Homo sapiens: one gene and its partners. The protein of the gene in region 2 purifies or fractionates together with the protein of the main gene of each other region. This does not show direct contact. Each region holds a gene or a part of one and is shown on either strand. Other genes may lie near its edges.

Evidence for each region. Proteins that work in one complex are often made in the same cells at the same time.
Region 1: the proteins of TTC27 (region 2) and AAR2 purify together in Homo sapiens (affinity purification with mass spectrometry; 3 studies listed by BioGRID and IntAct, with this or other methods). This does not show direct contact.
Region 3: the proteins of TTC27 (region 2) and PPP2R5D purify together in Homo sapiens (affinity purification with mass spectrometry; 2 studies listed by BioGRID and IntAct, with this or other methods). This does not show direct contact.
Region 4: the proteins of TTC27 (region 2) and NCDN purify together in Homo sapiens (affinity purification with mass spectrometry; 2 studies listed by BioGRID and IntAct, with this or other methods). This does not show direct contact.

Annotation. Positions count from the first base shown.
Region 1 is NC_000020.11:36,253,478-36,257,433, forward strand, and holds the end of AAR2 (protein AAR2 homolog), read left to right. Parts: intron 1-2,100; coding exon 2,101-2,268; 3' UTR 2,269-3,456; downstream 3,457-3,956. UniProt on the Homo sapiens protein: Component of the U5 snRNP complex that is required for spliceosome assembly and for pre-mRNA splicing.
Region 2 is NC_000002.12:32,669,550-32,673,049, forward strand, and holds part of TTC27 (tetratricopeptide repeat protein 27), read left to right. Parts: intron 1-2,722; coding exon 2,723-2,835; intron 2,836-3,500.
Region 3 is NC_000006.12:43,005,070-43,008,569, forward strand, and holds part of PPP2R5D (serine/threonine-protein phosphatase 2A 56 kDa regulatory subunit delta isoform), read left to right. Parts: intron 1-1,376; exon of another isoform or gene 1,377-1,393; coding exon 1,394-1,610; intron 1,611-1,841; coding exon 1,842-2,041; intron 2,042-2,126; coding exon 2,127-2,237; intron 2,238-2,344; coding exon 2,345-2,437; intron 2,438-2,865; coding exon 2,866-2,996; intron 2,997-3,131; coding exon 3,132-3,191; intron 3,192-3,297; coding exon 3,298-3,406; intron 3,407-3,500. UniProt on the Homo sapiens protein: The B regulatory subunit might modulate substrate selectivity and catalytic activity, and might also direct the localization of the catalytic enzyme to a particular subcellular compartment.
Region 4 is NC_000001.11:35,560,799-35,564,038, forward strand, and holds part of NCDN (neurochondrin), read left to right. Parts: coding exon 1-496; intron 497-1,593; coding exon 1,594-1,835; intron 1,836-2,403; coding exon 2,404-2,628; intron 2,629-2,968; coding exon 2,969-3,111; intron 3,112-3,240. UniProt on the Homo sapiens protein: Probably involved in signal transduction in the nervous system, via increasing cell surface localization of GRM5/mGluR5 and positively regulating its signaling. Required for the spatial learning process.

The DNA.
Region 1 (3,956 bases), on a different chromosome or scaffold from region 2:
GTATCTTTCCAGGGTATTGGGAGGATCCAGTTGGATGCTCTGTGAAACTTCTTTGAAAACAGTAAAATAGTATAAGAAGGAATCATGGGTTTGCTATTACTCTTAGGGAGGGACTGGGATCCAGGACAATCTGGAATGGGGTTTCAGATGTGGAAAAAATTACCATTCTGCTCCCCTGCCCATGTTTGTATTAAATGAAACTGTTCATGAGAGCATCAGAATAAGGGGTTGATATCCAGAATATATAAAGAACTCCTACAACTCAACAATGCAAAAACAACCCAATTTACAAATGGGCAAGGAAGTTGAATGGACATTTCACCAAAGAAGATATACAAATGGCCAATGTGCACATGAAAACATACTCAATATCCACTGATCATTAGGGAAATGCAAATCCAAACTGCAGTAAGATACTACCTCCTACCTATTAGAATGGCATGATTTAAACACACAGAGAAAATAACAGGCGTTGGCCAGGATGTGGAGAAATGAGAACCTTTGTGCATTGCTGGTGGGAATATAAAATGGTACGGCCCCTGTGAAAAACTGTGGCAGTTCATCAGAATTTAAACAGGGAGTTCCCGTATGATCCAACAGCTCCACTCCTGGGTTTCTGTGCAAAAGAACTGAAAGCAGAGACCCTAAGAGATATGTGTACACCCATGTTCATAGCAGCATTATTCACGATAGCCAGAAGGTAAAAACAACACAAATAGGCATTGACAGATGACTAGACAAACAAAATGTGGTATCTGCATACAACAGAATATTATTCAGCCTTCAAAAGAAAGGAAATTCTGACACATGCTGCATCATTAATGAACCTTGAAGGATATTATGCTAAGTGAAATAAGCCAGTTGCAAAAGGACAAATGCTGTATGATTCCACTTAGATGAGGTGCCTAGAGTAGTCAGATTCATAGAGACAGAAAGTAGAATGTGGGTTGCCAGGGCCTGGTGGGAGGAGGGAAGGGGGATAGGGTAGTCGAATTCACAGAGTTGGAAAGTAGAATGTGGGTTGCCAGGGCCTGGAGGGAAGAGGGAAGGGGGAGTTGCTGTTTAATGGCTGCAGAGTTTTGGCCGGGGATGATGGGGTCATTCTGAAGATGGATGGTGGTGATGGTTGTACAACAGTGTCAGTGTACTTAATGCTACTCAACTGTACACTTAAAATGGCTAAAATAATATGTATATTTTGCCACAGTTTAAAAAATAAAAATATTTTTAAATGGTTGAAATGGTAGATCTTATGTACAGATGCTCCTCAGCTTCACATGGGGTTATGTCTTAATAAACTGTAAATCAGATATACCGTAAGTAAAAAATGCATTGATTACACCTAACGTCCCTAACATTGTAGCTCAGCCTCACCCACCTCAAACGTGCTCAGAACACTAACACTAGCCTACAGTTGTGCAAAATCATTTAACACAAAGCCTATTTTATAAGGAAGTGTTGAATATCTCATGTAATTTCTTGAATACTGTACTGAAAGAAACAATTCAAAGTGCAGCTTCTTCTGAATGTGTATCACTTTGCATCATCATAAAGTCGAAGTGTCATAAATTGAATGTAAGTCAGGGTCCATCTGTATATTTTACCACAATTAAAAAAAAAATCAAAGACAGCTTTTAAGGGGGATAGAAGCCTCAAACTGGCAGCCTGTGGCCCATTTAGAAGATTAGAGCAGCAATTCAGTCGTGTTGGCTTGGGGCCTGGGACTTTATGGGATCCAGGGGCTTATAAGCACCCCCAAGCCTTTCTTAGGACCTTAGTACCGACTGGTGTAGCTACTACCTGTTCCTCTGGGTTACTGCCCGGGTGTCCAGTAGAACCCCCCAGGGGGTGGAGCCAGGGTAATGGCCCCCAGCCTCTGCCCAGATAGTAATTTTCCATTCTAGTCCTGCCCTAGCATCTCAGCTGGGTTTGGACCTTCTTTCTTGGTTTGGGGGGAGCATAGCAGGTGTCCTGGGCCTATGCCAGCAGCAGCTGATCTACCCGCCCCAGAAGAGCCGAACACCATGAGGAAATTTCCACAGCTTTCTCGCCCCCTGCCCTCCGTCTTCTCAGGAGTGACTTATCCTCTGTTCTCTGTAGGTTTTCTTTTCCTCTGCCTGCAGCATTGCCGTGGATGCCACCCTGAGAAAGAAAGCTGAAAAGTTCCAAGCTCACCTGACCAAGAAGTTCCGGTGGGACTTTGCTGCGGAACCTGAGGACTGTGCCCCGGTGGTGGTGGAGCTCCCTGAGGGCATCGAGATGGGCTAACTCGGGGAGCGCTCTCAGCTGCGAGGGGCCCCTTCCCACAGGGCTGCAGTCCTGGCCTCTCCATTTACTTCTTCCCATCCTGGGACCTGCCAGGGCAGCAATCTCTCCAGGTCCTGCAAAGATGGAGCCAGAATTCCCTTTTTCACTGATAAATATATTTCTTCATTGCCAAAGAGGCTGTACCCATCCTGAAGGCACATTTGTGGGTTCCCCATCAGCCAGGCCTTGGTGCTAACCTGGCTGAATTTCACACAGGCTCTTACACACACACGCTCCTAGGAGACATCTGCCTACACGGCAACCATATTTCCTCTGAATGAGAAGGAATTGAACCAAAAGTCCAAGAAAGAACTGATTGCTTGTTCCATAGGAGCTTAGGAAACAAGAAACCCTGGATTGCCCAGGGGGTCTGAGAAGTTGGTTGGTGACTTTTTTTGCGGTTAAATGAAGGGTGATGGGGAGATCAGCCCGAATTGCCGCCTGCCTCTTGCTAAATAGGAGCAGAGGACTTGGCCTGCAGCTCCTTGGGAGCCCTTGATTGGGAAGAGAGTTTCAAGGGAGGCAGCTGGATTCAATCTAGCAGGTGGTCAGCTTCAGCTTTCTCCATCGAAATCCCATTCTCCTGTCCAGAGGCCCAGTGGGTCATCTCCCAAGGTGGGTGTGGACCCTGGCCTCAGAGGCCTTGCTGGTGCTGTCACCTCCCACCTGTTCCATTCCGAGGCCTCACCCAGAAGTGGGACCCTCCCCTTCCTCACCAGAGCCACCGTGACTGTTTCTGATGACCTGGAGAGTCAACAACAACCAGAAAGGTTTCTGCCCAGAGCAGGCTTCTTAAGGCCTTTACGAAGTTTTGTGCCTTCCAAGTGCTGAAGAAGACCTGGTCAGCCTAAATCTTCCCAGTCCCGCTGTGGAGCTGTCAGTCACCGGAGTAATGAGCTCCTGGTTCCTCGGGAGTCCTTCGTGCTGTGTGGCAGGGTTCCTCTCTAGACAAGTACACAGGCCCTGCCACCCTGACATCAAACTGTTGTACTATGATCACAGTCCCTGTGCCATCCTTTTCCAAGACTGGGGCTCACACCATGTTTTTGAATGAGAATCCCTGCTGGTTGAGACTTTTGCTTCCACTTGTTTCCTTGGAGATGTTTTTCCAAGAGCATAATGTACATTAAAGTCTTCGAGTTGAGACAATCCCCTTGTGTGTGTGTGTCTCTTGCAGTTAATCCGCCTGATCTCCAGAGCAGCCAGGCTACTGTCCATAGACACACACCTCCCTCCAGTGTATGGGAGACTTGCCCAACCTCTGGAGTCTGGAAGAGGCAGGCAGCCAGTGTTCCTCCTGTTCCTCTTGAGGCCCCTGAGACAGGCACACAAGGAAGAAGGGATGAGGCCCCATGTCTCAATAATAACCCAAGAATCACCTGATATGAATTGGCTCCTCTTTTTCTCCCAAAGCCCACTCATCAGAACTAGCTGGGGAGCTTGTGAAAACTGTATCTTTAAAGGAGTGAAGTCCTGATACATGCTACAACACGGATGAACCTTGAGAATGTGCTAAGTCAAAGACACAAGGACCACCTATTATGTGATTCCATTCACGTGGCATGTCCACTAGAAACAAATCCACAAAGAGGGAGAGTCAATTAGCGGTTACCAGAGAATAAGACAGTATGGAATGGCAGTGACTGCTG
Region 2 (3,500 bases):
TATACCATTTATAGTGATTACAAAACATATCCTGATTGGAAATGTTACAACATGGCCCGGTGTGGTGGCTCACGCCTGTAGTCCCAGCACTTTGGGAGGCCGAGGTGGGAGGATCACTTGAGGTCAGGAGTTCGAGACCAACCTGGCCAACATGCCGAAACCCCATCTCTGCTAAAAATAGAAAAGATTATCCGGGCGTGGTGGTGTGTGCCTGTAATTCCAGCTACTTGGGAGGCTGAGGCAGGAGAATCGCCTGAACCCAGGAGGTGGAGGTTGCAGTGAGCCGAGATCATGCTACTGCACTCCAGCCTAGGTGACTAAGTGAGACTTTCTCAAAAAAAAAAAAAAAAAAGAAAAGAAAGAAATGTTACAATGTGAAAATATGTATTTTAATTTTTTTATTTTTTATTTTTTTTGAGATGGTGTCTCATTCTGTAGCCTGCCTTAGCCTCCGAGTAGCTGAGACTACAGCCACATGCCACCACGCCCGGATAGTTGTTGTATTTTTAGTAGAGACGAGGCTTCACCATGCTGGCCAGGCTGGTCTCGAACTTCTGACGTCGGGTGATCCGCCCGCCTCAGCCTCTCAAAGTGCTGGGATTACAGGCATGAGCCACCGCACCTGGCTTCTGTCTAGCTTCATTTGGCTCCTAAAGTCCTCTTTTTTTGTTGTTGTTGAATTAGAAAAAAATTTAACCCAAGATTATTGAGGAATAATTTATATAAAATATACCGATTTTAAATTACACTTTGTTGAGATTTAACAATTAGACGCGTGTCACCACCACCACAATGAAAAAAAGTTTCTCCAAAGAGTGCCGCCATAGTTCTTTGCAGTCAGTCAGTTGCTGTCATAGATTAGATCTGTCTTTTCTAGAATTTCCAATAAATGGAATCATACAGTGTATAATCTTTTGGTCTGGCTTAATGGTTTCAAGATTCATCCATGTTGAAATACCAATATGAACTGTTGGTGGACATTTAAGTTATTTCTAGCAGGTATTACTAATAAACCTGCCTAGAAAATATGTATGTAAGTCTTTGTGTGAACGTAAGTTTTTTTTTTTCTCTTCTTTTTTTATTTTTGAAATGGAATCTCGCTCTATTGCCCAGGCTGGAGTGCAGTGGCATGATCTCAGCTTACTGCAACCTCCACCTCCCGGGTTCAAGTGATTCTCCTGCCTCAGCCTCCCGAGTAGCTGGGAGTACAGGTATACGCCACCATGCCTGGCTAATTTTTGTATTTTTGGTAGAGACGGGGTTTTTGCCATGTTTGCCAGGCTGGTCTCGAACTCCTGACCTCAAGTGATCCACCCACCTTGGCCTCCTAAAGTGCTGGTATTACAGGCGTGAGCCACCATGCCTGGCCTCTCTTGCCCATTTTTAATTTGAGTTGTTTGTCTTCTTATTGAGTTCTAAGAGTTCTCCATATTCTGGATGCAAGTCCCTTTTCAGATATATGTTTTGTCAGTATATTTGGATCTGGAGCTTGACTTTTTGTCTTAACAATGTTTTCAGAGAACAGAAGTTTTTAATTTGATGAAGTCTAATTTATGAAGTTTTTCTCTTATAATTCATACTTTTTGTATCCTAATTAAGGACTGACTGCCTTTCCATCTCAGGGTTACAAAGTTTTTTTTAATGTTTTCTTCTAGAAGTTTTTTTAGCTTTAGCTTGTATATTAAGGTCTGTGATTAATTTTGATTTAATTTTTGTGTATGATTGAGATAAACGTGAAGGGTCATTTTTTTTTCCAAATGGATATCCAGTTGTTCTGACATCATTCATTCACTTACTTATTTTTTGGAGAGACAGGGTCTTGCTGTGTTACTCAGGCTGATCTCAAACTCCTGGCCTCAAGCTTCCTCCCACCTTGGCCTCCCAAAGTTCTCTAATTTCATTTATTGAAAGGCTTTACCTGTTGAAACACCTAGGTAGCTATATTGAAAATCAATCCATCATATATGCATGGGTCTAAAATTTTGAACTGTATTCTATTCCATTCACTTTATATGTCTGTCTTTATGCCAGTACTATACTGTCTGGGCTTTATAGTAATTCTTGAAATCAAGTACTTCCTCATATTTTATTCTTTTAAAAATTGTTTTGGTTATTGTCGATCATTTGCATTTCCATATAAATTTTAGAATGAGCTTGTCACAGTTTGGCATTTCCATCATTGATAACAAGCTATTTGTGAGAAATTTCTCAACTGATCACACTATATTGCTGAGACACAGAGTTGGGAAGTTGATGTTTTTGATTAGAATTTAGAGGCAGAATAGAAAGATCCAGTTTTGAATCCTGATGCTATCACATACTTTGAGTGTGATCTTGGATGAGCTTCAAGTATCTGATTCTTTGTTTTTTCATCAGTAAATAAGGATAGAAATGCCTATTGTCTATGATTGTTGTGAGGAAGAATTTGAAAAATGTATATAAAATTATCTGCAGAGGGGCTTTTGCATACTTGGCTCAATCAGTGATAGCTGTTATTCCCTATTATTGTCATTGTTAGTGCATTCTTGAGGTATAGATGGCACATCTTTCATTTCTGGAAGGTAAATTGTTTCCAAATATGTGTTTCACAAGAAATAGCCTATTGACCATATGTCAAACAGGTAAGTTAACTTTATCCTTTCTAGCAATCTATTACATGCCATTCTGGTGAATGAATAAAATTTAATTTTTGGTCTAAGTATTTTCTTTTGTATTCTACTAGAATCTTGAGCTCAATGATGACACCATTCTGAATGACATAAAGTTAGCAGATTGTGAACAGTTCCAGATGCCGGATCTGTGTGCTGAAGAGATCGCTATTATTCTTGGAATCTGGTGAGTTAATGACTGACTTGGCTGCTTTGAACACTTTGCATATTGATTCTCTTATGTGTGGAGAATCTTTATTCAAGGAGGTTCCAAGAGTTCTGGATGAATAGGGAATTTTGTAGTGCTTATGAAGATCAGAGGAAATACTTGGAGAACCAATTAAAGGGTTAGATATTACAAATCTCCAATGAGTTGATATATCTATTCTTCTGTTTCCTTTATAAGCACAATTTCTTTGGTTAGCTTTAGCTAGGAATAGATTATTAATAAAATATTAAAGACAAATGAGAATGACTATTTTGAGATTTGAGGATATTTACATTTCAAAGGATAGGATTATTTTTTAATACTGTGGAACCTTATCTATGGTGGAAATAGTTTTAACTTTTTTTTCTGATTAGAAATAATTTCAAATTTGTGAAAAATGTTTAAGGGCAGGACAATACATATAACTTCTAAGAATAAGTTTCCAAGATGATGCTGTATCATTCCTGAATAATTTAGTGTATATTTCCAACAAATAATGTTATTTTTGTACATAGTCACAATACAGCTATCAAAATCAGAAAATTAATGTTGGTACTTTGCTATCATTTAATTCTCAGACCCCATTCAAATTTTGCTAGTTGTTCAGATACTCTCTTTTAGAAAAGATCCAGTCTAGAATATAT
Region 3 (3,500 bases), on a different chromosome or scaffold from region 2:
ATTAACTCCTGATATTCCATTTATTCATTTTCTGTTATAAATGAGGTTGTTAAAAGTATTTGTGCACAAAGCTTTTTTTTTTTTTTTTCTTTTTGCCTGGCTACCTCTGTCTCCTCCAAAGCTTTTTTTTTTTAATTTAGGATTTTTATTAAGCTAAATTTCTAGTAAAGTCCTAAGACATGGGAATGAATTTCTTTCTTTTACCTTTTTAAATTTGAAAATTTTTATCTTTAGAGACAGTGTTGTTTTGTTGTTCAGGCTGGAGTGCAGTTGGTGTGATCATAGCTCATGGGAGACTTGAACTCCTGGGCGCAAGGGATCCTCCAACCTTGAGTAGCTGGAACTCCAGTAAGCTTCCTGAGTAGCTGGAACTGCAGGCATGTGCCACCACACCTGGCTAATTAAAAAAAATTTTTTGTAGAGATGGGGTCTTGCTACGTTGTTCAGGCTGGTTTCAAACTTCTGGCTTCAAGTAATCCTCCTGCTTTGGCTTCCCAAAGTGTTGGGATTACAGGCTTTGGCCACTGTGCCTGGCCTTTCTTTTACCTTTTGTTTTGTTTTTTTTTTTTGAGACAAAGTCTCGCTCTTGTCCCCCAGGCTGGAGTGCAATGGCATGATCTCGGCTCACTGCAACCTCCGCCTCCTGGGTTCAAGCGATTCTCCTGCCTCAGCCTCCCAAGTAGCTGGGATTACAGGCGCCTGCCACCACGCCTGGCTAATGTTTGTATTTTTAGTAGAGATGGGGTTTCACCATGTTGGCCTGGCTGGTCTTGAACTCTTGACCTCAGGTGATCTGCCCTCCTCGGCCTCCCAAAGTGCTGGGATTACAAGTGTGAGCCACTGCGCCCGGCCTCTTCTACCTTTTGATTGGAGACTGTCATACATTCAGTAAAGGATCTTAAGTGTACTGCTCAATAAATTTTAGGTATGTATCTGCCATGCACCACCTTGCAGGTCCAGTCAAGATACAGGATGTTTACATTACTCAGAAGGCTCCTCATGTCTCTTCTTATTCCTCATGTGTCTTCTTATTCATCATGTGTCTTCTTAGCAATACCCACCCCATTTCCCCTGGCAACGTAATCACTTTTTTGACTTCTGTCACCATCAATCTATCAATTAGCTTTACCTGTTCATGAACTGGAATGAACGTTTTAAAGGCTCTTGATGCACAAGCAGTGGGCATCTCTTTGGGTGATGTGACTTCTTGACTGCTCCCTGCCAGGGCTACAGCACAGTTATCTCTGTAACCCTGGCCTTAGCTCCTTCGGGGCAGGAGACAGCTGCTCACTGCCCAGGCCTGTGCAGGCATAAACAGACTTGGGGATGGCCAGGCCCAGGGTGGGAGGCATATCTTGGGAAGTGGATTTCAACAGGTGACTTGTTTGACCAGGCCCAGCCGCAGCCCCAGCCCCAGCCCCAGCCCCAAGCCCAGTCTCAGCCACCGTCATCCAACAAGCGTCCCAGCAATAGCACGCCGCCCCCCACGCAGCTCAGCAAAATCAAGTACTCAGGGGGGCCCCAGATTGTCAAGAAGGAGCGACGGCAAAGCTCCTCCCGCTTCAACCTCAGCAAGAATCGGGAGCTGCAGAAGCTTCCTGCCCTGAAAGGTACTTGGCAATTGGTCACAGGGGCTGTTTTACCAGTTCTAGTGGGCATCGGGAGTTGGTGGAATGGAAGTTTTGGGGTATTTTGCGGGGAAGGGAGTTCCAGAGAATGCGGGAAGGGGGTGCCAGGGAGCAGGATGGTGGCAGGGTGGGGTAAGGGAAAGCCCTTGAAGGCAAGCAGGGCATCGCAGTGAAGGACTACAGAGGAGAACCTGACTGCTGGGGCCCCCACAGATTCGCCAACCCAGGAGCGGGAGGAGCTGTTTATCCAGAAGCTACGCCAGTGCTGTGTCCTCTTTGACTTCGTGTCAGACCCACTCAGTGACCTCAAATTCAAGGAGGTGAAGCGGGCAGGACTCAACGAGATGGTGGAGTACATCACCCATAGCCGTGATGTTGTCACTGAGGCCATTTACCCTGAGGCTGTCACCATGGTGGGCACAGGGAAAGGACACAGGGGGGACTGGTGAGGGGCTCTGGAGAAGCCCAGGTGGAGCTCTAACTGGCCCTACCCCTCAGTTTTCAGTGAACCTCTTCCGGACGCTGCCACCTTCATCGAATCCCACAGGGGCTGAGTTTGACCCAGAGGAAGATGAGCCCACCCTGGAAGCTGCTTGGCCACATCTCCAGGTACCAGGGCAAGGGGGCAGATTGGCCGTGGCTGCAGGGAGTGGGGCACTTGGAGGCCTGCAAGTCCTTGGGAACATCCCCTCAGTGGCGTGCCTTTTCCCCTATAGCTCGTGTATGAGTTCTTCTTACGTTTCCTTGAGTCTCCTGATTTCCAGCCAAACATAGCCAAGAAGTACATCGACCAGAAGTTTGTACTTGCTGTGAGTCCCCGAGTTCCTGTCCTTGCCCTCTCTTTCCATTCCATGCCCCCTTCATCTGTGTCCCAGTGGCTCTTTCCCCTTAAGCTGAATATATTGGGTTTCATCCATGTCTGGTACGAGGAGGCTATAAAGGGTAAAAAACAAAACAAAACAAAACCCTACTCTGGCCTTAAGAAACTAACAACATAATGGTAGGAAACAAAAAAGCAACAGAGTACCTCTCTCAGGTCAATAGTGAGGCATCACTTTGGAAGTCTCAGTACAAATACAATAGAATCAGCAATATAATAGAATCACTGCTTTCTAAGACTTGCTGGCCCCCACTCCAGGGGACCTCTGCATTTCCCCTGGCGGGACCTATGTCACCCTGGCCACTGCCTTCCCTGGCTGCTGCCTCACTGGCTGCTTTCCCTCCCTTGTACCCCCAGCTCCTAGACCTATTTGACAGTGAGGATCCTCGAGAGCGGGACTTCCTCAAGACCATTTTGCATCGCATCTATGGCAAGTTTTTGGGGCTCCGGGCTTATATCCGTAGGCAGATCAACCACATCTTCTACAGGTGAGGCCAGGAGCCCAGGCTTAGGAGCAAAACCTTCTGCTACTGAGGTGGGGTGGGAGCAGGGAGGTGGGGGGACTGTACAGAATGCTGGAGGGACATCAGGGGTTGTCAAGAGAGCCATTTTTCTTCCCTCAGGTTCATCTACGAGACGGAGCATCACAACGGGATTGCTGAGCTCCTGGAGATCCTGGGCAGGTGAGAGGCCGGGTGGGGGCACAGATGCCTGAAAAAGGTTGGCAGGATTGGTGTACTGAACTTGGATCTGACCCTCTGGTCCTAACAAATGTCCCTTAATTCCTAGCATCATCAATGGCTTTGCCCTGCCCCTTAAAGAAGAGCACAAGATGTTCCTCATCCGTGTCCTACTTCCCCTTCACAAGGTCAAGTCCCTGAGTGTCTACCACCCTCAGGTGAGCTGCCTTCCTCCTTATAATGTCCAACTCAGGCAGCAGAGAAAAGAGCCGGCAGGAAAGTGTTCCAGCTGGGATAGGGGAAGCATAGGGA
Region 4 (3,240 bases), on a different chromosome or scaffold from region 2:
CGACCTGCTGGCCGTGTTGCGGGGCCTCAGTGAGGATTTCCAGAAAGCTGAGGATGCCAGCAAGTTTGAGCTCTGCCAGCTGCTGCCCCTCTTTTTGCCCCCGACAACCGTGCCCCCTGAATGCTACCGGGATCTGCAGGCCGGGCTGGCACGCATCCTGGGAAGCAAGCTGAGCTCCTGGCAGCGCAACCCTGCACTGAAGCTGGCAGCCCGCCTGGCACACGCCTGCGGCTCCGACTGGATCCCGGCGGGCAGCTCCGGGAGCAAGTTCCTGGCCCTGCTGGTGAATCTGGCGTGCGTGGAAGTGCGGCTGGCACTGGAGGAGACGGGCACGGAGGTGAAAGAGGATGTGGTGACCGCCTGCTATGCCCTCATGGAGTTGGGGATCCAGGAATGCACTCGCTGTGAGCAGTCACTGCTTAAGGAGCCACAGAAGGTGCAGCTCGTGAGCGTCATGAAGGAGGCCATAGGGGCTGTTATCCACTACCTGCTGCAGGTGAGGGTGCAGTGACCCACAGAGGGGGCCCAGTATGGGGGGAGCCAGTGCTGGAGCTGGGAGGCAAGGGGGAGGAGAATAATGGGGAGACAGCGAAGCTGCATGTCCACACAAGCTGATACTGTAGCCAGCACTCCAGGGAGTAGTGTGCGGCCCAACCTCCCTCTCTCTCCCTCCCTCCACACAAGCACCATACCACACACCATATGTGCACTCACATCACAGTACACACACACGCACACACACACAACACAGTAACCTCCCACTCAAACGCTCCCCCCAATACACACACACTACACGCCACACACCTCTCCCCAACACATGCACACAAGATTGAAGCAGTCTGTTCTGCTCACTCCATAGCATTGTTTTATACACGCACACACCCGAACTTCTAATGGTGCAGGGAAGAGAAGCAGGGCTGCCTGGTTCCTGGCCTCTATAGAGGTCTGGCTAGATCAATTCGCCTGCCTCCCCTACATCCCCTCCTGCCTCCCCGCCTGAGAGGCCAGCTGTCCTGTCCCACAGGGATTCAGTCATGACTCTGGTCTCTTTAATGGCCTGCTCCAGCCACCGAGCTCACCAGCCATATATTCCATGCACCACGCTAAGCTCATGTCTTTTTTCTGACTTAGCACAAAAGAGAGCATCCCCTCACTCCCACCATTGGGAGCAGTTACACAGTAGCCAGGAACCTGCCCTCCCACCCCAGGTCAGAGCTGCTGTAAAGGGTGTTTAACTTAGCTTTTGACCTATGAATTTCCTTCTAGCCTTGAGACACTCCAGAGGTAGGGAGTTAGGGAGATGTGACTGGAGCCTCAGCGAGTACGGGGGCATGTCACTCAATTCACTCAGGCCCAGTTCACTCAGCAGACGTGTGTGGAGGGCCTGGCTCACTCTGTGCCAGTCCCTTGTGTGCGTCCCTACCACATGCTAGGTGCTGGGTTCATGGGACAGAATAAAGGTTGGGGCCTGCCTTTGAAAGGCTCACAGGCCAGAATTTCCTTCTAGTTGTATTATTTCTAGCTGGCTGGCCTCTGGCAAGGCAGGGAGGGTCCCTGGTCCTGCTCCATCTCAAGGGGGTCCTGTGGCAACAGGTGGGGTCAGAGAAGCAGAAGGAGCCCTTTGTGTTTGCCTCGGTGCGGATCCTGGGTGCCTGGCTGGCCGAGGAGACCTCATCCTTGCGTAAGGAGGTGTGCCAGCTGCTGCCCTTCCTCGTCCGCTATGCCAAGACCCTCTACGAGGAGGCCGAGGAGGCCAATGACCTTTCCCAGCAGGTGGCCAACCTGGCCATCTCCCCCACCACCCCAGGGCCCACCTGGCCAGGAGACGCTCTCCGGTGAGTCTGTAGTTACAGTCTGTCCAGCTAGATCATTCTACCGAAAAGCGTTAACACAAGGACACCCCTCCCCACAAACTGAGCTGTGCCAGGCTTCCTGATTGGGCCATGAGATATCCCTTAGGGTTATTTCTGTTTTGGGGGGCTTGTTCCCACAGGACTCCTCGGCTGCCAGGTGTCACTTGCCAACCCCAGATTTCTCAGTTAAAAGAGAACTTATACTTATTGAGCACCTACTACGAGCCAGGTATTTTGCTATACCCTTTACCAAAATGATCTCATTTGGTCCACGTGGTAAATATAACAGAAGTCTCATTCACATATGAAAGATTAGGAAACTGAGGCTCATAGAGATTAAAGTCACTTGCCCACAGTCACACTTTGTGGCAGAGCCCAAGTTTGGTCCTGGGTTGTGCGACTCTGAAGCTTGTACTTTTTCTGTGGTACCTGCGAGGATGTGTCCTTCTCCCCTACTTCCATTTCTCTTAGGCAAGGTGCCCTAAAAAGGGAATCTATGTGCCTTCATCTCTCCCAATCCCACACACGTCTGTCCCTTCCACATCCCCAGGCTCCTCCTGCCTGGCTGGTGCCACCTGACCGTTGAAGATGGGCCCCGGGAGATCCTGATCAAGGAAGGGGCCCCCTCGCTTCTGTGCAAGTATTTCCTGCAGCAGTGGGAACTCACATCCCCTGGCCACGACACCTCGGTGCTGCCTGACAGCGTGGAGATTGGCCTGCAGACCTGCTGCCACATCTTCCTCAACCTCGTGGTCACCGCACCGGGGCTGATCAAGTGAGGGGCTCGGGAGAGGTGGGGGAGGAGGCCGGAGGAGGCAAAGGAGGCTGCCCAGTTGCCTCAATTCTCAGTCTCCTACTTTGCCCCCCATGCCCATGGATTTGTTAGTGGTAGCATGGGGGTCTCAGAGTAGACATAGCCAGCCCCGCACAAGGATTCGGCATGCTGGAACCCCCAGGTACTGTCTCAGCATGTCTGCTTGTTCCAATCTCTGCCCCCCAGATGCTATGTTTGGGGCCCAAAGTTAATCACCCTACTGCCTAATTTCTTGCCAAGGGCTTGATTTGGCTGTACTAGACCCCCACCTACCTCCATCCTTCCCCCCTTTCTTTTCCAGGCGTGACGCCTGCTTCACATCTCTAATGAACACCCTCATGACGTCGCTACCAGCACTAGTGCAGCAACAGGGAAGGCTGCTTCTGGCTGCTAATGTGGCCACCCTGGGGCTCCTCATGGCCCGGCTCCTTAGCACCTCTCCAGGTAAGAACTGGGGATCCAGTCCTGATGGGTGAGGACAGAAGACCTGGGTGGACCTCCTGTGTTTGGGGCAAAAGTCACCATTTTTAGAAGATGGTTTTGCAGCATTTTCTAAGCAAGAGGAAATCTTTG